3 separate regions of the Homo sapiens genome follow, and regions 1 and 2 are each linked to region 3. The links come from fine-mapping of genetic effects on gene expression. A gene starts in region 3. Each other region holds a variant in brackets. All regions are shown on one strand. Distances are from middle to middle.

The links.
Region 1: its variant is fine-mapped to the expression of TRIP10 in whole blood (TOPMed, PIP above 0.99).
Region 2: its variant is fine-mapped to the expression of TRIP10 in skeletal muscle (FUSION, PIP 0.95).

What each region holds. Positions count from the first base shown.
Region 1 is chr19:6,797,959-6,805,958 of GRCh38, reverse strand. All of the region lies in intron 1 of VAV1 (vav guanine nucleotide exchange factor 1), which reads right to left. Among named protein-coding and RNA genes, the nearest start is that of VAV1, 29 kb to the right of the region's middle. RefSeq lists enhancers at 2,765-2,984, 3,867-3,936, 3,727-4,247. The variant G/A (reference allele first, on the strand shown) is at 3,399.
Region 2 is chr19:6,632,421-6,640,684 of GRCh38, reverse strand. No RefSeq gene overlaps it. Among named protein-coding and RNA genes, the nearest start is that of TNFSF14, 34 kb to the left of the region's middle. RefSeq lists an enhancer at 963-1,012. The variant A/G (reference allele first, on the strand shown) is at 4,914.
Region 3 is chr19:6,735,356-6,743,619 of GRCh38, reverse strand. TRIP10 (thyroid hormone receptor interactor 10) reads right to left here and starts at 3,940. Exons shown (of 15, transcript NM_001288962.2): 1 at 3,835-3,940; 2 at 2,495-2,610; 3 at 2,339-2,395; 4 at 506-653; 5 at 364-426; 6 at 22-126. The coding sequence starts at 3,858. GPR108 (G protein-coupled receptor 108) reads left to right here and starts at 6,040. Exons shown (of 18, transcript NM_001080452.2): 1 at 6,040-6,163; 2 at 6,909-7,028; 3 at 7,662-7,712; 4 at 7,916-7,998. The coding sequence starts at 6,044. It overlaps MIR6791 (microRNA 6791), which reads left to right and starts at 6,842; the gene lies at 6,842-6,908. RefSeq lists enhancers at 1-848, 3,079-3,846, 4,296-4,425, 4,446-4,535, 4,615-5,383 and 3 more and silencers at 3,686-3,775, 3,816-4,095, 6,066-6,125, 6,226-6,395, 6,544-6,705 and 1 more.

The sequences.
Region 1 (8,000 bases), 62 kb before region 3:
AGACGGGAGGAAGTTGAGGGAATCAGCCCATAAACCCCTTTAGCATCCAAGACACTTCCATCAGGGCAGTCCAGAGACTCCAGGCTGATCTTCCTTCCTTCCTTCTTCCTTCCTTCCTTTCCTCCTCTCTTTTAGTTTCTTTTTTATTCATATAAATGAATAAATATTACTATATATAATATTCATATAGTGTGTGTGCATATATATATACACATATGTGTGAGCTGTATAATTATTTCATTATATATTACAATGTAATAATAATAGAAATAAAGTGAACAATAAATGTAATGTGGTTGATTCATCCTGAAACCATCCCCCCAACTCATGTGTGTGTGCGTGTATGTGTGTGTGTGTGTGTGTGTGTGTGTGTGTATCTGTAGAAATGAGGGTCTCACTATGTTGCCCAGGCTGGTCTCGAACCCCTGGGCTCAAGTGATCCTCCTGCCTCAGCCTCCTAAGGTCCTGGGATTACAGATGTGAGCCACCACAACTGGTCTATTTTCTTTGTTTTTGTTTTGTTTTGTTTTGTTTGAGATGGAGTCTTGCTCTGTGGCCCAGGCTAGAGTGCAGTATTATGATCTCAACTCGCTGCAACCTCCACCTCCCGGGTTCAAGCGATGCTCCTGCCTCAGCCTCCTGAGTAGCTGGGATCACAGGTGTGTGCCACCATACCCAGCTAATTTTTGTATTTTTAGTAGAGACGGGGTTTCACCATGTTGGCCAGGCTGGTCTCGAACTCCTGACTGTAGGTGATCCATCCGCCTCGGCCTCCCAAAGTGCTGGGATTACAGGCATGAACCGCTGCGCCCGGCCTTACCACCGCTTTTCATGGCAATTACCTGATCACCCAAAAGTTACTACCCCTTCCCTGGAAATTTCTGCATAAACTGCCCCTTACTCTACATGTAATTAAAAGGAGGTATGGGCCGGGGGGCGGTGGCTCACACCTGTAATCCCAGCACTTAGGGAGGCTGAGGCGGGTGGTTCACGCCTCAGGAAGGTCAGGCAATCGAGACCATCCTGGCTAACATGGTGAAAACTCATCTCTACTAAAAATACAAAAAATTAGCCGGGCATGGTGGCGGGCGCCTGTAGTCCCAGCTACTTGGGAGGCTGAAGCAGGAGAATGGCGTGAACGTGGGAGGCAGAGCTTGCAGTGAGCCAAGATTGCGCCACTGCACTCCAGCCTGTGCGACAGAGCAAGACTCCGTCTCAAAAAAAAAAAAAAAAGGAGGTATGGGAAGGGCACAGTGGTTCATGCCTGTAATCCCAGCACTTTGGGAGGCCAAGGCAGGCAGAACACCTGAGGTCGGAAATTTGAGACCAGCCTGGCCAACATGGCGAAACCTCATCTCTACTAAAAATACAAAAGTTAGTCAGGCGTGGTGGCACGCGCCTGTAATCCCAGCTACTCAGAAGGGTGAGGCAGGAGAATTGCTTGAACCTGGGAGGCAGAGGTTGCAATGAGCTGAGATTGCACTACTGCACTCCAGCCTGGGCGACAGAGCAAGACTCTGTCTCTAAATAAATAAATAAATAAATATAAATAGGACCGCCAAACTGCCCTGAGCTGCTACTCTCAGCCTGTGGGGTAGCCCTGCAAGAGCAGTCATGGAGCTGTAACACTGCCACGGCAATAAAGCTGTTTTCGTCTACCCTACCACTGGAATCACCCTTGAATTCTTTCCTTAGCCTGTGAGGCTTCTTGGGTGAAACCAAGAAGCCTCACAGGCTAAGCCCCACTTTGGGGCTTGCCTGCCGTGCGTCACATTCTCTGGATTTGGACACATGTATGATGATGGGTATCCACTATTATAGTGTCATAGAGAGTATTTTCACTGCCGTGGAAAGCTTCCATGCTCTGCCTATCCATACCCCCTTTCCACTAACCTCTGACAACTACTGATCTTTTTACTGCTTCTACAGTTTTGCCTTTTCTGAAACATCACATAGCTGGTATCATATAGTATGTAGCCTTTTGGGACTGGCTTCTTTCACTTAGTAATATGCATTTGGGGTTCCTGCGTGTCTCTTCATGGCTTGAGAGCTCATCTCATCTCTCTTCAGTGCTGAATAATATTCCATTGTCTGCGCTGGGAGCAGTGGCTCACACCTGTAATCTCAGCACTTTGGGAGGCCGACGTGGCTGGATCACCTGAGGTCAGGAGTTTGAGGCCAGCCTGGCCAACATGGTGAAATCCCATCTCTACTAAAAATACAAAAATTAGCCAGGTGTGGTGGCAGGTGCCAGTAAACCCAGCTACTCAGGAGGCTGAGGCAGGAGAACAGCTTGGACCTGGGAAGCAGAGGTTGCAGTGAGCCGAGACCACACCATTGCACTCTAGCCTGGACAACAAGGGCAAAAGTCCATCTCTAATAATAATAATAATATTCCATTGTCTGGATGCACCACAGCTTATTTATCCATACGAGGAAGTAGGTGGAACTTGACTCTGGAGGTGGGGCTCAGACAACGGACCAAATTGAGGACTAGCTAAAACAGGGCTGGAGCAGAAGCACCTTTCCATAAGACATGCCCACCAGTGTGCCATGGCAGTTTGCCATTGTGATGGTAACACCAGCAGCTACTACTCCTTTCCCAAGGCAATGACCCGACAACCCAGAAGTTACCACCCTTTTCCTAGAAATTTGCATAATCTGCCCTTTAATTTGCATATAATTAAAGTGGGTACAAAGATGACTGCAACCCTGATTACTCCGGGCTCACAGCCTGTGGGGTAGCCCTGCTCTGCGAGGAGCAGGACTTCTGCAACTGCCGCTATGCACTTTCACTTCAGTAAAAGCTACTGTCTAACACCTCCAGCTCGCCCTGGAATTCTTTCCTGGGCAAAACAAAGAACCGTCCCAGGCTGAGCCCCAATTTAGGGCTTGCCTTGCCCTACATCGCATTCATCTACCGAAGGACAATTTGTTGCCTCCCAGTTTCAGCAATCATGAATAAAGCCGCTACAAAGACTTGAGTGTAAGTTTTTGTGTGGACATAAATGTTCAACTCCTTTGGGTAAATAGAGGACCTCAATACCTAGTACCATGTCTGACACATAGTAGATGCTCAATAAAATCTGTCGAATGAATAAATCTCCCTTTGACAGAGGAAACAACTGAGGCTCAGAGAGGGGATACTGCCCATCCCGGACCACACAGATAGGAATGGAGAACCAGATACCAGCACTGGATCCCAAAGTCTGTGCCTCTAACCTCTGTACAACACTGCCTCTTTGAACCACACTAAGCTGCTCCTGGTGCCTCTTAGAGAGTGGCATAATGAGGGCGCTCATGGGCAGGCAGATCACCAGAGACAATAGAGCAGATGGCTGTGTCTGTGGCTCGAGGGAGGAAGTTCCCTCCTGACCTCAGGGAGATCAGCTGAACCC[G/A]GAGACAGCTTCCTTCCAGTCATGTGATGCCTCAAAGAGGGGAAAGGGGGCATGATTCATCCCCTCTCCGGGCTGCGGTGGGGCCAGCTAAAGAAAGGGGCTCCATCAGACAGCAGCAGTGACTGCAGTTAGACCACCAGAAAGGACTTCCTGGTCGCCTGAAGAGTGTGAGAAAGTGGCAAAGGACAGGAGGTCCTTTATTTTTTTTAATTTTATTATTATTATACTTTAAATTTTAGGGTACATGTGCACAACGTGCAGGTTTGTTACATATGTATACATGTGTCATGTTGGTGTGCTGCACCCATTAACTCCTCATTTAGCATTAGGTATATCTCCTAATGTTATCCCTCCCCACTTCCCCGACCCCACAACAGTCCCCTGTGTGTGATGTTCCCCTTCCTGTGCCCATGTGTTCTCATTGTTCAATTCCCACCTATAAGTGAGAACATGCGGTGTTTGGTTTTTTGTCCTTGCTATAGTTTGCTGAGAATGATGGTCCTTTAAACAAACGTAGGAGAGGCATTATGAGGACGGTTCCTCCCTGCTGGGGGCAACCCCCCTCAGTGCCCCTCTTCCTTCCTCCAGGAAGAGGCGGGCACCCACTGTGCTGGCATCGTGCCCATATGCAAATCAGCACCCAGGCGCACTGCGGTGAACCCTGAGGTTCATTCTTCCCCATTTGCCAGCCAGCCTCCCATCAACAAAACCCCTGCCCAAGATGAAGAAAGAGCCAGAAAGGTCGGCTGGCTTTCCACGCTCCTTCGGGGAAGCAGTGTGCAGGGACAGAGGCCTCTGGGGTCTGGGAGAAGGGGACCCAGAGCCAAGCACGACGGCAGCAATCAACTCCCCACCCCCACCCCAGCACCAGGGAGCCGGCCGGAAACCGGAAATGCCTGTTACCAGGGCTTGGTTGGGGAGATAGAAAAAAGGGTGGGTGGAGGGGCCCTTTGCGTTCAACCCATCAGCCCCTTCATCAGGCAACCTCAAGCTCCCGAGGGTTCCCAGAGAGGGCGGGTGTGCTGTGCACCCTTTCAAAGCTCCGAAGCAGGGGTGCAGAGTGTGCACGCCTCATCCTAGCCCTCAAACCCTTCTGTGAGGAAGCCCGTCTCTCTTCTGCCCCATCCCCTACCACCCCAGCACACACTCCACTTTTCAGCACCGGTGGGAGGGTCAGGCAGATCTGGTTCGACTCCCAGACCAGCCCGGCAAGTTGAGGGAGCTTGGATGGGATCATTTTGCTTTCCGTTGATTCAATTGACTCATCTGTACGTCGGGAATGAAAATACTTGACCCAATGTTTGCGGTAGAGCCTGGTGTGAAACCCAGCACCCCAGACCCGGTCATGCATTAATTCAGCAAGCATGTGTGGAATGCCTACTGTATGCCAAGCACCAGAACCTAATGGTGATCAAGACAAACAGAGCTCTGCCCTTACAGGGCTTATGTAATCCAGCCAGGAGACAAACACTAAGCAGTCAGCAAGGTGAATAATTGATGATGAGGGTGGTGAGAGGGTGTGCCGGGAAGCACAGAGAGCTATGGGACCTGGTTAAATGCAGGAGGCACCTGGTAAGGCTTTGGGGTGGTACAGGAGAGAATGGTGCCATGCAGGCGACAAAGAGATGGTGAGCGGCTGGGTGCGGTGGCTCACGCCTGTAATCCCAGCACTTTGGGAGGCTGAGGCGGGCGGATCACTTGAGGTCAGGGGTTCAAGACCAGCCTGGGCAACATGGTGAAACCCCGACTGCACACACACACACACACAAAAATTTGCCAGGCGTGGTGACAGGCGCCTGTAATCCCAGCTACTCTGGAGGCTGAGGCAGGAGAATCGCTTGAACCCAGGAGGCGGAGGTGGCAGTGAGCCGAGATCACGCCACTGCACAGCCTGGGCAACAGACCGAGGATGTCTCAAAAAAACAAAAAACAAAACAAAACAAAAAAAAGAAGCTGGGTGTGGTGGCTCATGCCTGTAATCCCAGCACTTTGGGACGCTGAGGTGGGTTGATCACTTGAGGTCAGGAGTTTGAGACGCGCCTGGCCAACATATAGTGAAACCTGTCTCTGCTAAAAATACAAAATTAGCTGGGTGTGGTGGAACACGCCTGTAGTCCCAGCTACTTGGAAAGCAGAGGAAGGAGAATCGCTTGAACCCAGGAGGCAGAGGTTGCAGTGAGCCGAGATCATGCCACTGCACTCCAGCCTGGGCAACAGAGCAAGACCCCATCTCAAAAAAAAAAAATGAGACAGATAGTGAAGCAAAGAAGAGAAGCATGCTGAGCAGCTGGCAGGAACATCACATGGCAGATCCACTTTGGAAAAGTTGGTACGTTTTCCTTGTTATTACTATTATTTTTTTACCTTGCAATTCCAGCACAAAGGAAGAAAAGTTGGTACATTTTCTTCTTATTAAAAAAAAAAATTAAGAAACAGAGCCTCACTATGTCGGTCAGGTTGGTCTCAAACTCCTAGGCTCCAGCAATCCTCCCGCCTCAGTTCCCCAAAGTGCTGGAATGACAGGCATGAGCCGCCGTGACTGGCCTGGTAAGTTTTCTTAAAACATTAAGCATGCACCTATCATACGATATATTCCATTACCAGGCATTTACTCAAGAGAAATGAAAGCACATGTCCATACAAAGACTTGTACAGAATGTTCATAGCAGCTTGATTCTGTTTTCTTTTCTTTCCTTTTTTTTTTTTTTTTTTTTTTGAGACAGTCTCAGTCTGTCACCCAGGCTGGAGTGCAGCCTGGCCCAATCACAGCTCACTGCAGTCTCAAATTCCTGGGCTCAAGCAATCCTCCTGCCTCAGCCTTCCAAAGAGTTAGGACTACAGGCATGTGCCACCATATCCAGCTAGCAACTTGATTCATGATAGCCAAAAGTGCCATCAGTAATTCAAACCTCAACCAAGGGGAACATCACACACTGGGGCCTGTCGGGGGCTGGGGGTTAGGAGAGGGATAGCATTCGGAGAAATACCTAATGTAGATGATGGGTTGATGGATGCAGCAAACCACCATGGCACGTGTATACCTATGTAACAAACCTGCACGTTCTGCACATGTATCCCAGAACTTAAAGTATAGGCCGGGCATGGTGGCTCACGCCTGTAATCCCAGCACTTTGGGAGGCCGAGGTGGGCAGATTATGAGGTCAGGAGTTCGAGACCAGCCTGGTCAACATGGTGAAACCCTGTCTTTACTAAAAATACAAAAAAATTAGCCAGGCGTGGTGGCGCACACCTGTAGTCCCAGCTGTTCGAGAGGCTGAGGCAGAAGAATCGCTTGAACCTGGGAGGCGGAGGTTGCAGTGAGCCGAGATTGCGCCACTGCACTCCAGCCTGGGCGACAGAGCGAGACTCCATCTCAAAAAAACAAAGCGAAACAAACAAAAAAACCTCCATCAAGGGATGAATGGATAAACAAACTGGGGTGCATCCGTACAACAGAATGGTACACTGATACATACAACAACATGGATGAACCAGGACATCATGCTCAGGGAAAGCAGCCAGTCACAGAAGACCACAGATGGTACCATTCCACTTACATAAAACTCCAGGAAATACAAACTAATCGACAGTGACTAACAGCAAATCAGGAGGTACGAGGGAATGAGAGGTGGGAGGAGGGGGAGGCAGGGAGGGGTGGGATGGAGGAAACTTTGAGGGGCAATGGATATGATCCATTGATTTCAAGGCTGGGTTCATAGTTGCACACATATGTCAAAATTTATCAAATCAGGCCAGGTTCAGTGGCACACACCTGTAATCCCAGCTACTCAGGAGGCTAGGGTAGGAGGATCGCTTGAGTCCAGGAGTTCAAGGCCAGTCTGGGCAACATAGGGAGACCCTGATTCTTTCTTTTTTCCCCCTTCTTTTGGGTGGGGGGGGGAAGGGGAGAAACAGGGTCTCACTCTGTCACCCAGACTGGAGTGCAGTGGTGCAATCCTGGCTCACTGCAGCCTCGACTTCCTGGGTTCAAATGATCCTCCCATCTCAGCCTCCCAAGTAGCTGGGACTACAGGCACATGCCACTATGACCAGCTAATTATTTTATTTATTTATTTATTTATTTATTATTTATTAGAGATGAGGCTGGTCTCACCATGTTGCCCAGGCTGATCTCGATCTCCTAAACTCAAGCAATCCTCCCACACCAGCTTCCCAAAGGGGCGAGATTACAGGCTTCAGGCACCATGCCCTGCCAAGACCGTTTCTGAAAACAAATCTAGAAATTAAAGAAAAAATTGTTTACCAAATCATATATTTTTTTTTGAGACAGAGTCTCACTCTGTTGCCCAGGCTGGAGTGCAATGATGCGATCTCCGCTCACTGCAACCTCCGCCTCCCAGGTTCAAGCGATTCTCCTGCCTCCACCTCCTGAGTAGCTGGGATTATAGGTGCGTGCCACCATGCCTGGCTAATTTCTGTATTTTTAGTACAGACAGGGTCTCACCATGTTGGCTAGGCTGGTCTTGAACTCCTGGCCTCAAGTGATTTGCCCACCTCGGCCTCCCAAAGTGCTGGGATTACAGCGTGAGCCACCGCGCCCCACCAATGTATTTTAAATATGTAATTTACTGTATGTCAATA
Region 2 (8,264 bases), 100 kb after region 3:
TCCTGGGTTCAAGCGATTCTCCTGTCTCAGCCACCCGAGTAGCTGGGGTTACAGGTGCCCCCCATCACGTCCAGCTAAGTTTTGTATTTTTAGTAGAGATGGGGTTTCACTATGTTGGCCAAGCTGGTCTCCAACTCCTGGCCTCAGGTGATTCGCCCAACTGAGCCTCCCAAAGTGCTGGGATTACAGGAGTGAGCCATGGCGCCCGGCCCAGATTCATTTGTTTTATAAGGAGACTCACTGCATTTGAGGACAGCTACTTAGGATTCTTGGTCTCTATGCCAGCCAGAAAATGAAGGTTGGTGGGATGAGCCACAGTTTACACTGCAGGAGTGGAGTCTAGCAGCCCCCGTGAGTGTTCACCCTCTCCCTCTCCCACTGTCCCTTCTAGAGTCCCTTCATCTTCAGGTGGCCCTTCTGTTGGTGTAGGTGGCTCACCTGGTGGGGTCACCTAGATCCTCATCCCTGAGGGATCTGAGACCTTGCTCACCATGTCTTTAGGCCCTTAAGGGCGACATTAATCTCTGCTATTCCACTGTGATGCAACCTTGCATTTGTTTTTGTTTTTGTTTGTGTTTGTGCTTTTGCTTTTGCTTTTTTTGAGACAGAGTCTCACTCTGCAGCCCAGGCTGGAGTGCAGTGGCACAGTCTTGGCTCACTGCAACCTCCGGCTTCCAGGTTCAAGTGACCCACCTGCCTCAGCCTCCCTAGTAGCTGGGTCCACAGGCACGTGCCGCCACGCCCGGCTAATTTTTGTATTTTTAGTAGAGTCGGGGTTTCACCATGTTGGCCAGGCTGGTCTCGAGCTCCTGGCCTCAGGTGATCCACCTGCCTTGGCCTCCCAAGGTGCTGGGATTACAGGCATGAGCCACCGTGCCTGGCCCAACCTTGCATTGATTTACTGTCTTGGTCAGTGAGAGGTGACAAGGAAAGTGATTTTAGAGGTCTCCATTGGTCTTATCCACAGGAAAAGTTTGCTGACACCTCATCTACTGAGTCATTTCCACATGCTCAGTGCTTAACCCAGATCATCTTAACCCCTGCGATGTTGATACTATGATTGTCCCCTAACTACAGATGAGCTAACGGAGGCACGAGGGAGTGAGGTCACCAGTGCAAGGTTCTTCAGCTAGGAAGTGGTAGATCCTTCTGGTTTCAGAGCCCTTGCCCTAACCCACTCACCTATATCTTCTGGGTGGATATATGGGCTGGTATCAGCCTATGCATAGACCCCATTTTATTATCTGCTCTCCTACTGATGGACACGTAGCCTGCTTCACAGTGTTATACGCAATGCAGTGATGAACATCCAATTGAGTGTCTTTCTATGCAGGTGGGCCCCCGTCACAGGTGCTGGGTGAGCTCAGATGAGGGTTTGGAGAAGGGTTTTGAGCCTTTGGGTGTTGACCTTTATCATCTCAGGATTTCAAATCCAGCCCTTTGCACCTGCTTCCCTTCATCTCCCATCTTTTCTTTGTTGTTGTTGTTGTTTGTTTATTTATTATTTTTTTTAAGATAAGAGTTTCTCTGTGTCGCCCAGGCTGGAGCACAGTGGTGCAATCTTGGCTCACTGCAACCTCTGTCTCCCAGGTTCAAGTGATTCTCCTGCCTCAGCCTCCCGAGTAGCTAGGATTACAGGCATGTGCCACCACACCGGGCTCATTTTGTATTTTTAGTAGAGACAGGGTTTCTCAGTGTTGGTCAGGCTGGTCTCGAACTCCCGACCTCAGGAGACCCTCCTGCCTTGGCCTCCCAAAGTACTGGGATTACAGGCTTGAGCCACTGTGCCCAGCTGTTTGCTTTTTTTTTTTTTTTTTTTTTTTTTTTAGATAGGGTTTCTGTTGCCCAGGCTGGAGTGTGGTGGTGCAACCTTGACTCATTGCAATCTCCGCCTCCCAGGTTCAAGTGATTCTCCTGCCTCAGCCTCCCGAGTAGCTGGGATTACAGGTGCCCAGCACCACGTCTAGCTAATTTTTGTATTTTTGGCAGAGATGGGGTTTTGTCATGTTGGGCAGGCTGGTCTCGAACTCCTTTCCTCAAGTGATCCGCCTGCCTCGGCCTCCCAAAGTGCTGGGATTACAGGCGAGAGCCACCGCGCCCGGCCCTCCCACGCTTTCTTCTCCATGTTCCTCTTTACGCTGCCCTCACCCCACTTCAGGACACTCTTACCAAAACTTGGCCCTGAGAACTGAATTGCCACAGTTTAGGGGCTCCTGTATCACTCTGGTCAAGTCCCTTCACCTCACTAAGCCTCAGTTTCCCCAGCTGTACAATACAGAAAAAAAATAGCTCATTCCTCACTAAGTCACTGGGAAGATTCAAAGAGATCCTGCATGGAAGGATAGTGATTTTAAAATAATTTAAGATTTTTTTTTCCATTCTTCCTTCTGATCCAGATCTCCACTCTGTCAGTTACTGGTTGGGTGACCTTAAGTGGCTGACTTAACCTTGCTGTGCCTCAGTTTCCTCACCTGTAAAAAGTGATAAAAGCATCCCCACTATGTCATAACTCATATTTCCCCCTACTATCTGGGTATCGTTAAAACAGCACAAGTGCTTAGGGTTTTTTTGTTTGTTTTTTTGTTTTTGTTGTTGTTGTTTTTTTGAGATGGAATTTTGCTCTTGTTGCCCAGGCTGGAGTGCAATGGCACAACCTCGGCTCACCGCAACCTCTGCCTCTCGGGTTCAAGTGATTCTCCTGCCTCAGCCTCCGGAGTAGCTGGGATTACAGGCATGTACCACCACACCCGGCTAATTTTTTGTATTTTTAGTAGAGATGGGGTTTCTCCATGTTGGTCAGGCTGGTCTCGAACTCCTGACCTCAGGTGATCCGTCCGCCTCGGCCTCCCAAAGTGCTGGGATTACAGGCATGAGCGACCACACCCGACCCACATGTGCTTAGTTTAGCAGTTCTTGGCACAAACTAGATGCTCAATAAATAATGGCCACTAGCTAGGCATGGTGGCACCTGCCTGTAATCCCAGCACTTTGGGAGGCAGAGGCGGGTGAATTGCTTGAGCTCAGGAGTTCAAGAGCAGCCTGGGCAACATAACGAGACCTTGTCTCTACAAAAAATAAAACTAAAAAATTAGCCAGGCATGGTGGCACCTGCCTGTGGTACCGGCTACTCGGGAGGCTGAGGTGGGAGGATCACCTGAGCCTGGGGAAGTTGAGACTGAAGTGAGCTGTGATCGCACCACTGCACTCCAGCCTGGGCAACAAAGAAAGACCTTGTCTCAAAAAATAAATAAAATTTAATTTAAAATTATTTTTAAAGCCAGGTACGGTGGCTCACACCTGTAATCCCAGCAATTTGGGAGGCCGAGGGAGGTGGATCACTTGGAGTCAGGAGTTCGAGACCAACCTGGCCAACATGGTGAAACCCTATCTCTACTAAAAATACAAAAATTAGTCGGGTGGTGGAGGGCGTCTGTAATCCCAGCTACTCCATAGACTGAGGCAGAAAATTGCTTGAATCCGGGAGGCAGAGGTTGCAGTGAACCAAGATTGCACCACTGCACTCCAGCCTGGGTGACATACTGAGACTCTGTCTCAAAAAATAAATTAATTAATTAATTTAATTTTTTTTTTTTGAGACAGAGTCTCACACTATTCCCCAGGGTTGGAGTGCAATGGCATAATCTCGGCTCACTGCAACCTCTGCCTCCCGGGTTCAAGTGATTCTCCTGCCTCAGCCTCCTGAGTAGCTGGGATTACAGATGCCCACCACCACGCCTGGCTTATTTTTTGTATTTTTTAGTAGAAACGGGGTTTCACTATGTTGGCCAGGCTGGTCTTGAACTCCTGACCCTGTGATCACCCCATCTCGGCCTCCCAAAGTGCTGAGATTACAGGCATGAGCCATTGCGCCCGGCCAATAAATTTAAATTTTAAAAAGTAAGGCCGGGCACGGTGGCTCACACCTGTAATCCCACCACTTTGGGAGGCCGAGATGGGCGGATCACGAGGTCAGGAGATCGAGACCATCCTGGCTAACACGGTGAAACCCCGTCTCCACTAAAAGTACAAAAAATTAGCTGGGCGTGGTGGCGGGCGCCTGTAGTCCCAGCTACTCGGGAGGCTGAGGCAGGAGAATGGCGTGAACCCGGGAGGCGGAGCTTGCAGTGAGCCGAGATCGCGCCACTGCCCTCCAGCCTGGGCGACAGAGCAAGGTTCCATCTCAAAAAAAAAAAAAAAAAAGTTGAAGGAAGGAAGGAGGGAAGGAAGGAAGGAATGAGAGAGAGGGAGGGAGGGAGAGAGGGAGGGAGGGAGGGACGGAAGGAAAGGAGAGGGAAGGAGGGAGGAAGGGAGGGAGAAAGGGAGGCAGCATATTTTTCCTTCCAGCAGAGGGGAAAAAACATGTTTCTCCTTCCCCTACAGCTGAAAAAAACAATTATTCTGCACCATGAAACTAGACTTGCAAATATTCTTTTATAGAAGAAGATTTGTATATTCTATACACCTGAACTTCACAGTCAGATGGTGTGTTCTGGTAAAGTAACTGTCAGTCTCTGAAATCTCTATAATTCTGCTTGATTTTCTTTATTTGTTGCCCTGGAAACACCATTGAAACTAAAATCTCTGTTTCTAAGAAAAGGCAGCAGGGCGCTGTGGCTCAAGCCTGTAATCCCAGCACTTTGGAAGGCTGAGGCAGGCAGATCACCTGAGGTCAGGAGTTCGAGACCAGCCTGACCAACATGGGGAAACACCATCTCTACTAAAAATACAAAATGAGCCGGGCATGGTGGCGGGCGCCTGTAATCCTAGCTACTCGGGAGGCTGAGGCAGGAGAATCACTTGAACCCGGGAGGCGGAGGCTGTGGTGAGCAGAGATCGCACCATTGCTCTCCAGCCTGGGCGACAGAGCGAGACTCTGTCTCAAAAAATAAAATAAAAAACTGCAAATACTTGTC[A/G]GTTTTGATTTCTAAGCCTCAGCTCTGTGGATATTTGGAGCCAGATTGTCCTCTTGGGTGGAGCCATCTGGGCACTGCAAGGTGCTGAGGAGTGTCTCAGGATCCTGCCTCCATGCCAGGATCACCCCCAGTTGTAACAACCAAAAATGTCTCCAGATGTTGCCAAATGTTTCCTGGAAGGACAGAATCACCCCAGTTGAGAACCACTGAATTCGATGATAAACACAGGCACATTTTTTGCCTATTTAAAGAGTCTGAAAGGCTCTGCTTCATTTAAATTAAGATTCCAAGCTGGATGCGGTGGCTCACGCCTGTAATCCCAGCACTTTGAGAGGCCAAGGCAGGGGAGTCACCTGAGGTCAGGAGTTCGAGACCAGCCTGGCCAAAATGGAGAATCCCTGTCTCTACTAAAAATACAAAAACTATTCAGGCATGGTGGTGCGTGCCTGTAATCCCAGCTACTCAGGAGGCTGAGGCAGGAGAATTACTTAAACCCGGGAGGTGGAGGCTGCAGTGAGCCGAGATCACACCATTGCACTCCAGCCTGGGCCACATAGCGAGACTCTCTCAAAAAAATAAAAATTAAAAATAAAAATAAATTAAGAAACTAGATACTGTCCTAATTACATTTTTATTCCTCCTCTGATCCTCCATGAGTAACTTAGAGAGAGTATATGATATCAATTCCTTTGATAGCGATGTGATTTATCACTCAGTATAAGGCCAAGCTTTGGAAATATTCCCTAAGCATTTAAAAATGCATCTATTTTTAATTATGGTAACATGTATAACATAAAATTTACCTGTAATCCCAGCACTTTGGGAGGCCAATGTGGGTGGATCGCCTGAGGTCAGAAGTTCGAGACCAGCCTGGCCAACATGGCGAAACCCCGTCTCTTCTAAAAATACAAAAATTTACCATTTTAACAATTTTAAGTGTACTCTTCACTGATATGAAGTATATTCACATTGTTGTGCAACCATTACCACCGTCCATCTCCAGAAAGTTTTTCATCTTGCAAAACTGAAACTCTGTGCTCATTAAACACTCACACTCACTCGCCATTCCCTCCTCCCCAGCCCCTGACACCCACCTTTCTCCTTTCTGTCTCTATAAATTTGCTCCATCATTTCCTCATATAAGTGGAATCATAACAGTATTTGCCCTTTTGCAGCTGGCTCATTTCATTTAGAATAATGTCTTCAAGTTTCATCCATGTTGTAGGATATATTAAAACTTCATTCTTCTTCAGGGCGGAATAATATTCCATTATATGGATATACCACATTTTGTTTATGCATTCATCCATCAGTAGACACTGGGGTTGCTTCTGTATCTTGGTTACTGTGAATACTACTCCTATGGCCACAGACGTAACAATATCTGTTCTCATCCCTGCTCTCAATTCTGTTGGGTATGTACATAGAAGTAGAATTGCTGGATCATAGTAATTCTATTCTAATGTTTGGAGGAAGTGCCATACTGTTTTCCATAGCAGCTGCACAATTTACATTCCTACCAGATCCTTAAGTGTTTCTTTTTTTTTTTTTTTTTTTTTTTTTTTGAGATGAAGTCTTGCTCTGTTGCCCAGGATGGAGTGCAATGGTGCCATCTCGGCTCACTGCAAACTCCGCCTCCTGGGTTCAAGCGATTCTCCTGCCTCAGCCTCCCGAGTAGCTGGGATTACAGGCACCTGCCACCACGCCAGGCTAATTTCATATTTTTAGTAGAGACGGGGTTTCACCATGTTGGTCAGGCTTGTCTCAAACTCCTGACCTCAAGTGATCCACCTGCCTCAGCCTCCCAAAGTGCTGGGATTACAGTCATGAGCCACCATGCCGGGCCACTAAGCATTTCTTAATGTGTTTCTTTGTTTGTTTGTTGTTGTTGTTTGTTTGTATGTTTGTTTGAGATGGAGTCTCCCTCTGTCATCCAGGCTGGAGTGCAGTGACTCGATCTCAGCTCACTGCAACCTCCACCTCCCAGGTTCAAGAGATTCTCCTGCCTCAGCCTCCCAAGTAGCTGGTATTACAGGTGCCCGCCACCACACCCTGTGGGCAGCAAGCCACACAGGTGCCGAGGCAAGAGACCGAGGGCACGAGCTGTTCCAGTATAATAAAGAAAATACATAAAATAAGAATACTTATACTAGACATAGATCATGGATATGATTATATATGAATATCATTAATTATTAGTTTGTAGCAATTACTCTTTATTCCAATATTATAATAATCCTTGCTCTACAATCATAACCTAGGAAAAACCAGGCCATACAGAGATAGGAGCTGAAGGGACATGGTGAGAAGTGACCAGTAGATAAGAGTGCGAGCCCTCTGTCACGCCCGGACAGGGCCACTAGAGGGCTCCTTGGTCTAGGGGTAACGCCAGCATCTGGGAAGACGCCCGTTGCCAAGTGGCCCGTGGTCTAGCGGTAGCGTCAGTGCCAAGGGAAAACACGGGCTACTTAGCAGACTCGAGGCCAGGAGTTTAGAGAAGACTCTGCTCCTCCACCTCTTGTGGAGGACCTGACATTAGTCAGGCTCGCCCGCAGTTATCCGGAGGCCTAACTGTCTCCCTGTGATGCTGTGCTTCAGCAGTCACACTCCTGGTCCGCTTTCATGTTCCATACTGTACACCTGGCTCTGCCTTCTAGATAGCAGTAGCAAAATTAGTGAAAGTACTAAAAGTCTCTGATATGATATGCAGAAATAATGGCGTAAGCTGTCTCCTCTCTCTCTCTCTCCGCCTCGGCTGCCAAACAGGGAAGGGCCCCCTGTCCAGTGGACACGTGACTCATGTGACCTTACCTATCATTGGAGATGGCTCACGCTTCTTACCCTGCCTCCTTGTCTTGTATCCAATAAATAACAGTGCAGCCTGGCATTCGGGGCCACTACCGGTCTCTGCGTCTTGGTGGCAGTGGTTCCCCGGGCCCAGCTGTCTTCTTTTATCTCTTTGTCTTGTGTCTTTATTTCTACGATCTCTCATCTCCTCACACACACAGGGAGAAAAACCCACCGACCCTGTGGGGCTGGTCCCTACATACCCTGGCTAATTTTTGTATTTTTAGTAGAGACCGCGTTTCACTATGTTGGCCAGGCTGGTCTCAAACTCCAGACCTCAAGTAGTCCACCTGCCTCGGCCCCTCAAAATGCTGGGATGACAGGCGTGAGCCGCCGCGCCTGGCCACAACAGGACATTTCAGTTCAGATCCACATTCCAAGTGCCATATAGTAACATATGGCTATTGACATGGAATAGCATGGTATTGAGTAGCACAGATTTGGACCATCTGCATTAATTGCAATTCTTCATACATTTTGAATTTTTTGGAGGAATTATTTGCC
Region 3 (8,264 bases):
CCCCGCCCCCGCCACACACACCTTCTCCACATCAGCCTTGGTGGCGTTGATATCCTGGTCTAGCCGTTCAGCAGTCTGGGCTGCCTTCTCTGCCTCCCGGCAGTCCCGCTCAAATTTACGCTTACTCTGTGTAGGGGACAGAACCGGAGTGAGGGAGCCACCATCCCAAAGACAGCAGGGTGGGAAACCAAGGTTTCAGGGATTATTGGGATGTCATCCAGTAAGTAGGGGTCAAGGGAGTACTGGAAGCCTATGGGGGAGGGAAGGTCCAGGTCTGACAAAGAGGGCAGCTCCCTGACTCCGGATCCGCAACCCTGCCCCCATGCCTCCGGGCCACAGTCACTGCTACCTCTGCAAACTCACATTCTCCAGCTGTTTAAAGCCATTTTCCAGCTGCTGCTGGGCCCGCCGCCCTTCTTGGAAGTGCTACAGAAAGAAGAGTGATAAGGCTCGCCAGGGTTCCAGCAGAAGCCCTTTGTAAAACCTGAATCGGGGGGCTCCTCACCATCTTCCTCTCCTGTTTCATCTCTTGTGAGTACTTGGTCAGCTCAAGACATACACGGACACTGAGGTTCTCAGCCACCAGCTCCCGCTGGCCTGCAAAGTCATTCACCTCCTGGAGAATCTGTACGAAGGACTGTTGCTGGCTGAATCTGGGGTTGGATGAGAATCGGGGAACAGGGAGTCAGGCCCCTCCTCCCGAGCAGGCTGATGCCCCAGGACGCACCTCCAGGTGGAAAAGGGTTAAGCCCCAAGAATGTAATCCCTGAAGCGATGACAAATTCTGGTCCATATTCCTTAACCCCAACCCTTGAGTAGATTTTTTTTTTTTTTTTTTTTGAGACAGGGTCTTGCTGTCACCCAGGCTGCAGTGCAGCGGCATGATTGCGTCTCACTGCAGCCTCAAACTCCTGGGCTCAAGTGATCCTCCCACCTCAGGCTCCCAAATAGCTGGGACCACAGGCACACGCCACCACACCTGGCTAATTTTTTTTTTCCAGATGAGGTCTCAAACTCCAATCCCCCCGAACTCCGCATCTTCCCGCCTCACCCTCCCAAAGTGCTGGGAGTACAGGTGTGAGCCACCGCACTGGACCTCGAATGTATATTGGAACACAGAATTTTCCAGTTTTTAAAGATGGTGTACAAAGCTTATACCATCTTTTCTGCATCATCTTAGTGGGGTTGGGGACATCATTTTGTAATCAAACACCGTATCTATTTGTTTTGGAGACAGAGTCTCACTCTGTCGCCCAGGCTGGAGTGCAGTGGTGCGATCTTGGCTCACTGCAACCTCCGCCTCCCGGGTTCAAGCGATTCTCATGCCTCAGCCTCCTGAGTAGCTGGGATTACAGGCGCGCACCACAACGCCTGGCTAATTTTTGTATTTTTAGAAGAGACAAGGTTTCACCATGTTGACCAGGCTGCTCTCGAACTCCTGACCTCAAGTGATCCACCTGCGCACCCTCCCAATGTGTGGGATTACAGGTGTGAGCCACTGTGCCCAACCCTATTTTTTTTTTTAATTTTACAATGAGAGGTGTTAACATTCACACTAAGTGGGATAAAAGTCAAAACTACAATTACCAGCCTGGCTAACATGGTGAAACCCTGTCTCTACTAAAAATATAAAAATTAGCTGGGCATGGTGGCAGGTGACTGTAATCCCAGCTACTAGGGAGGCTGAGGCAGGAGAATCGCTTGAACCTGGGAGGCGGAAGTTGCAGTGAGCTGAGATGGCGCCACTGCACTCCAGCCTGGGGGACAGAGTGAAACTCTGTCAAAAACAAAACAAAACAACTACAATTAACAAAAAGTTCAGGTCAGAGATTGCTGCCAAACAAGTGACCAAAACAACTTGATTTCCAGGGCTTTTTTGGATTTTGGAATTGGGGACTCAATTCCAAGTCAAATGCTCCTTACGGCGTTTGATATGGACTGCACACTGTTTAAACACATTCACTCAGCTCGTGTTCATGAAAGCCCTACAAAGCTGGAGGAATCGTCATCATTCCATTTCACAGATGAGGAAAACAGAGGCGCAAAACTTTAAGTCATCTGCCCAAAGTTACTGGTTTTGTAACTGCTGGGGCCTCTGTATTTAACAGTTAAGGAAAATAGTGGCAGAAAACCTGAGTCACAAGCCCAAGTCAATTTCTCTACATAGTAGTGGACTCAGGATTCCAAGCCAGATAATCCCGCATCTTGCATCCATGCTCTCACCTCTAGAAGGGGAAGTGAGAGGAGCGGTGGGGTGTCCCAGCTGAGGGAGGGGAAGTGAGACCCAAGCACCGCCTTTCCCCACAAATCTAGCCCTGCAGCCCCTCTCCAACCTTACTTGGACTCAGGATCATCCTTGGCAGGTCTCTTGGGCAGATATTTTTTCACCAGGCTCCTAAGGGGAGACAGAGGTAGGAGGGCTGAGCCCGCAGCCCTCCCACCGCTCCCCGTCGCCCCAGGCGCGTCCTCCGTAGCGTCCACCCCAGGGTCTCACCGCAGTTGTTTGGCGTAAGCCTGTTCCACTTCGGTGCGTTCTTTCACGAACTTTACATATCTGTCCAACAGGTCCAGCCCCCACTGCGTGTGGCGCTCGAGCACCTCGAACTGATCCTGACATGGGACATGGTGGGGGAGGAGGGGAGAGGGGCCGGGGTCACGATTTTGGGACCCCACAGCCCGCCGACCAGACTCCCAGGGAGGGCCAAGGCTCTGCGCTCCTAGAAGGAGTGGCTTCCCGGCGCCGCCCCGGCGTGGCGCGGGGGGAGGCAGGAAACTGGCGGGAACCCCCTCCCCTTCCCGGGAAGGGCCGGAGAACAGCGCCCAGGCCCCAGCCACCCCGGCCGGGAGATGGAGGTCTCCGACATAGGACCGCCAAGAGGGGCGTGGAAGGGGACAGGGCCACTCCCCCAGCTCGGGCTCCCCTAATCCCCCCGGATTCCGGAAAATCCGGCCGGCCCGGCGTGAGTCAAGGCCAGAGGGGCAGGGTTCCTGGCAGACTGGGGGCCCCTGAGTGGCCAGGGGGCAGGCACCAGGTTCCCTGAATCTCCCTGCTTCCAGGGATCCCCCGATGGGTGACTCAATTTACCCCACTGACCCCACTACACATCCAAAAGAAATCGCAGAATTGGAGGAGGGGGTGGCAGTCTGGTTACCCCCGCTGCACTAAGAACTCAGGGATTCCACCGCCCCCAGCAAGGGGAGGGGTCAGAGGTCCGGCTAGGATAGGGGGAAATTTCTGGGGCTTCCAGGGCTGAGGTTATAGGCGACCAGGGGGCGGTCCCGCCCTGGGCCTGGGGTGAGCAGGGGGAAGCCAGGGAGGGGGATCAGGCCGAGCTTAGCATCCCCCTTCCCCTCCATGAGCGTCCCCAGCCCCTAGGTGTTGATTAAAGGCGAGGGAAAGGGCGGTCAGGACTTCTAGGTCCCACGTGGGTGGGGATGAGGGTGACCAGAGGGTCCCCTCCCCCCTCCTAGCCGGACAGGCGGACGACGGGCAGGGACCCAGGGGCCGTAAGATAAGCCGCCTGCCCGGCCAGGGCGCCCAAAATAGGTGACCTCTCTCAGCCGCCCCGGCCTGGCCCCAGGATTCCTTCTGCCCGCCTCATTCGCAACCCTGTGCCTCAGTTTCCCCACTCCGGTCCGGCAAAGTCGCCCTTCGCCCCTGAGCGTGCTGAGACTCCCAGATAAACTTCGAGAGAGAGCGGAGGGTGGAGGGCGGGGACCCAGGGGTCGGTGGAAGGGAAAGGCGCGGAGCCCCCTCTAAGATACATTGGGGACAAAAGGGGGGTGCCTGGACCCCAGCAAAGGGGAACTTAGAGGCGGGCCGATTGGACTTACCCACAGCTCAGTGCCCCAATCCATGCTGCTCCCGCCGCCGCCGCCGCAGCCACCACCGCACCCGGTCCCCGCCGCCCGCCGCCCGCCGCCCTCCCCGGGGAGACTCAGCCGAGGGCGGTGCGCCTGGCCCCGCCCCGCCCCGCCCGGCCCCGCCCACCCCAGACTCTTCCCCGCCCCCCTGCACGCTCTGCCACGCCCCCACCCGCGCGGAGCCCAAGCACTGCGATTCGGGGGCGGGGCCCAACGGACGCTCCGCCCCCTTTTAAAGCAACGTTGCCACTCGACGCCGCTGGACCGACCCCTTAAAGAACCCCCACCCATTTTTTCCAAATCCCCGGGGTCCCTCTCGTCCTCTCATCTTCCTTCCCCGCTCCAAACGGTTCTTCCCATCTCCTTTTCCCCTTTCCCCGCAATTATTCCTTAAAGGGCCAAGACACTAAAACCCCAAACTCAAGAAGTCCTTCCTCAACCCCATTGCAGGGGCAACCTGAGGTCACCCCGTTCTTGCGAGCCGGCCCGGCTCCAGGCGTCTAGGTTCGTCCCACTAATGGTCTGGTCCCTCCGGCCACAGGGCGGATGAGAGGGTTTCGATCCAACCCAGGACGCGCCTTCGCCAAGGCCAGGTCCATTAACTCCCGCACCGCATCCTGCCTTCCCTCCCCCAGAGTCTCCGCTGGGAAACTGAAGACAGGCCGTCCTTGGGGCGCCAGGCCCAGGCCTTTCCCCAGCTGCCTTCCAGTTCGCGCCTGCATCTGCCCATTTTCCAGTTTAACCTGGTTTCATTCTCAGTACTGCCCCTGAGATTCCGACTCCGCCCCTCCCCCAGACATCTGGGCCATCTGGGCCCTGGAGAAGGGAAGTCTGTCACCTCTCCCATAAAAGTCTGTTCACACCTTGTAAATCCCTTTGAGGTGCTGGAATGAAAGAGGAGAGGAGGCACTGGGGATTCCCACTCCCATTCTCTCCGGGCTTTGGCGCTTTCTCTGCAGCCTCAGACAAGGCTGGGCGTCTTGCAGGGGGGCCCTTGGGTATACGTTCCCCTTACACAGAGCACCCAGGCTCCCAGAACAGAGAGATACAGCTGAGCCCAGGAGGAGAGCCTTGGGAGCCCACACTGGGACTGATGTCTCTGCTGAGACCTGGCCCCACCTGCTGGTGGCTTCTGAGCTAGAAAATGTCTGATTGCAGTTGGGCAATTGAACCCAGTGAGTTCTGTGGCTAGTCTCAAATGGGGGCTCAGCCTAGCAAAGTTCTGAGTTCACCTCTGCTCAGAGACTCAAACTGGAATTGGGGTTCAGTCCAGGTCAGCACCACCGTGGGGATAGGGGATAGAGGCCAGAGGCTTAACCAGAAGGATTAGCAACCCGGTAAGGGGTCAGGTCCAATCTGGAGTCAGGGCTAGTCCAGATCGGTGGCCTAAACCAGAGATTAAGCCTCAGTGTGTGGTGTGGGGGACGAGGGGGTGTCAGAGTTTCAGGCTGAAGTTAGGACTCAACTTGCAGAGAGGGAGTTCACCTGGGGTCAGAGTTCAGCCCGGAGTCCGGTCTAGCCTGGAATCTGGGGGTGGGGCTCCAATTGCCTCACTCTGGAATAAAAGGCTTAGCCTAAGGCTGGGGTCTCAGCCTGGGGTCATAGGTCATCCTAGGGTCAAACTTTAACCTGAGGCCAGCTTTAGGCCTCTCTGTGGACCAGGAAGATTAGGAAAACAGGTCAGGCCTGAACAGATGCGTGTGTTTACCAAAAGCCTCAGCTCTGGCTGGGAGCCACATCCCTGGCTCAAGAAGAGGAAGTCCGTCCTTGGGGATACTGGGAAAGGTAGTTTATTTAATGCTTTGTGGCCCTTGTCTGCTCCCGCTGCATTCTGGGTAATGTAGTCCCGGACAGTTAAGAGTGGGTGGAGAAATTCCGCTTTAAGGGCCGGATATCAGATCCATGACAATTGGTTAGATAAACTGCTCATTAAATCACATCCGGACAATCTTTATAGCGATTGGTGAGAGTGAGCTGGGGGTTAAGCGTTATCGGCTCTCCCATTCGGAACCGGTGCTGTCCGTCGGTGACGCAAGCAGGCGGGCTTGCGGAGAGGCAATTGCTGATTGGTTGGCGGACTGGAAACTCCGAAAGGCCGGGCCCCGCCGTGCGGCGATTGGCTCATCGGTGGGCGGGCTTGGGCGCCAGAGGCGGAGTCGGGGAGGAGGTGGCTCCAGAGATGGCAGTGAGCGAGAGGAGGGGGCTCGGCCGCGGGAGCCCCGCGGAGTGGGGGCAGCGGCTACTTCTGGTGCTGCTGCTGGGTGGCTGCTCCGGGCGCATCCACCAGCTGGCGCTGACGGTGAGGCCCGCCGCGCGAGGGTCTGGGGTCGGTGGCGCAACTTTGTCTCGGAGAAGCCCCCTGGCTTGGAGTGGTCTCGTCCGCCCTCCCCCGTCCCCGAGGCGGTGGAGTGGTCCGGCGCCCCCCGTTTCCGGGCCCGGAGTGGTCTCGTCCCGGGATCCCCTTCGGTCCTCCGGATGGAGTTGCCGGGTCCGCCTCGCTGGGGTCGGCCCCCTCCCTTCGGGGGCGAGGCTCCATCTCTTGGGGACTACACCCCCCTTCCCCCCAACTGGGTCTTAGTCCTTTAAATTCTTGGAATCACTTTTGGGGCGCTAGAGACCCTGGAGCCGCACAGCGGGGTCCTGGGGGGCTATAGAGTGGGGTCCTCTGGGCACTTAATGGGATTTGGGGGGTTCTGTTGAAATATTGCTGGGAGCTCAACTGGAATGTAAAAGTTCTTCGGGAAGGTGAAGGTCAGGCACGCCGAGGTGAATAACTGTTCTCCGGGCGGTGCTCACCCCAGTGGGGAGACTTCCAGGTGCCGCAGGATCTCTGTTCCTGGGTTCTCAGAACAGAGGTCGGAGAATGCAGGACCACCCTTCCCCTGCAGGGAGGAAGTCCCTCTCAACTTTCTCTTGTCATCCTCTGGGCCTGTCCTAAATAGAGGGGTACCAGGAGGCCCTTCTGGAGGTCCTCGTGCCAGACCCCTGGGGCTGGGCAGGCGGAAAGAGGTCTGAACTGCCTCTGCCTCCTTGGTCTCCGGCAGGGGGAGAAGCGAGCGGACATCCAGCTGAACAGCTTCGGTTTCTACACCAATGGCTCTCTGGAGGTGGAGTTGAGCGTCCTGCGGCTGGGCCTCCGGGAGGCAGAAGAGAAGTCCCTGCTGGTGAGGGACCTTGAGGAGTTTGCTGGAGGAGAGCACGGTGCAATCCCCCGGTTCTGGGTTCCCAGCTCTGCCGCTACCCATGTGATCTTGTACAAGTCCCGTCATCTCTCTGAGCCTGTTTCGTCATCTGTACCTGGGAGTAATGATGTCTTACACAGGATGTGCTAGGCACTTTTCTTAAGACTTGGGGGACAGGCGGGGCGCGGTGGCTCAGGCTTTGTAGTCCTAGCACTTTGGGAGGCCAAGGTGGGAGGATTGCCTGAGGCCAGGAGTTCAAGACCAGCCTGGGCAACATAGTGAGAACCCCGTCTCTACAAAAAGTTTTTAAAATTAGCCGGGCGTGGTGAGGTGTGCCTGTAGTCCCAGCCAGTCGGGAGGCCGAGGTGAGAGGATCGTTTGAACCTGGGAGTTCGAGGCTGTAGTGAGCTATGATCCTGCCACTGTATTCCAGCTTGAGAAACAGAATGAGGTCCACCCACCACCCCAACTCTAAAAAAGAAAAAGAGCGTGTGGGATCTAGCACATGTTAGGTGTTCAGTAAATGTGAGGTTAGGTTTCTATTGCTACTGAAAGGGATAGCTGGGAGGTCTCTACTGTCCCTCACACCCTCCCCTTTTTTTTTCCACCCACCAGGTGGGGTTCAGTCTCAGCCGGGTTCGGTCTGGCAGAGTTCGCTCCTATTCAGTGAGTGGAGGGCATGGGGAAGACGGGAGAAGGGGCTGGAGGGAGGGGGTAGGGTCTGTCCTCTGCATCTGTAACCCAAGGGCCCCTGTTCTTTGTCAGAGGCAGGAGCAGGAAGATCCCGTGGGTGGACAGGGAGGGAGACAGGGTGGAGCTGGACCAGGAGAGGAGTAACCAAGACTCACTCCCTCCTGCCCACCCCCCAGACCCGGGATTTCCAGGACTGCCCTCTCCAGAAAAACAGTAGCAGTTTCCTGGTCCTGTTCCTCATCAACACCAAGGATCTGCAGTGAGTTGGGGACCGGGGGCTCGCTCAGATCCTTCGTCTGCGTTTCCCTGGTGTGATGCCCACACGCACCTGGGCTGATCAGGTGGGATGAGAAGCAGAGAGAGAAAGCCACTTACTTTTTAGTTTTGCCTTCAAGTCTTCTGATTGTTGGAAGGAAGGAGAGAGGGACTCCGCGGGTGTTGGTGTCTCAGGGCAGAAGACCCGGATACAGAGGGTTGTTGTGAGAATGAATAACAATTGTTCGCACATGTTGAGTGCTTCCGGTG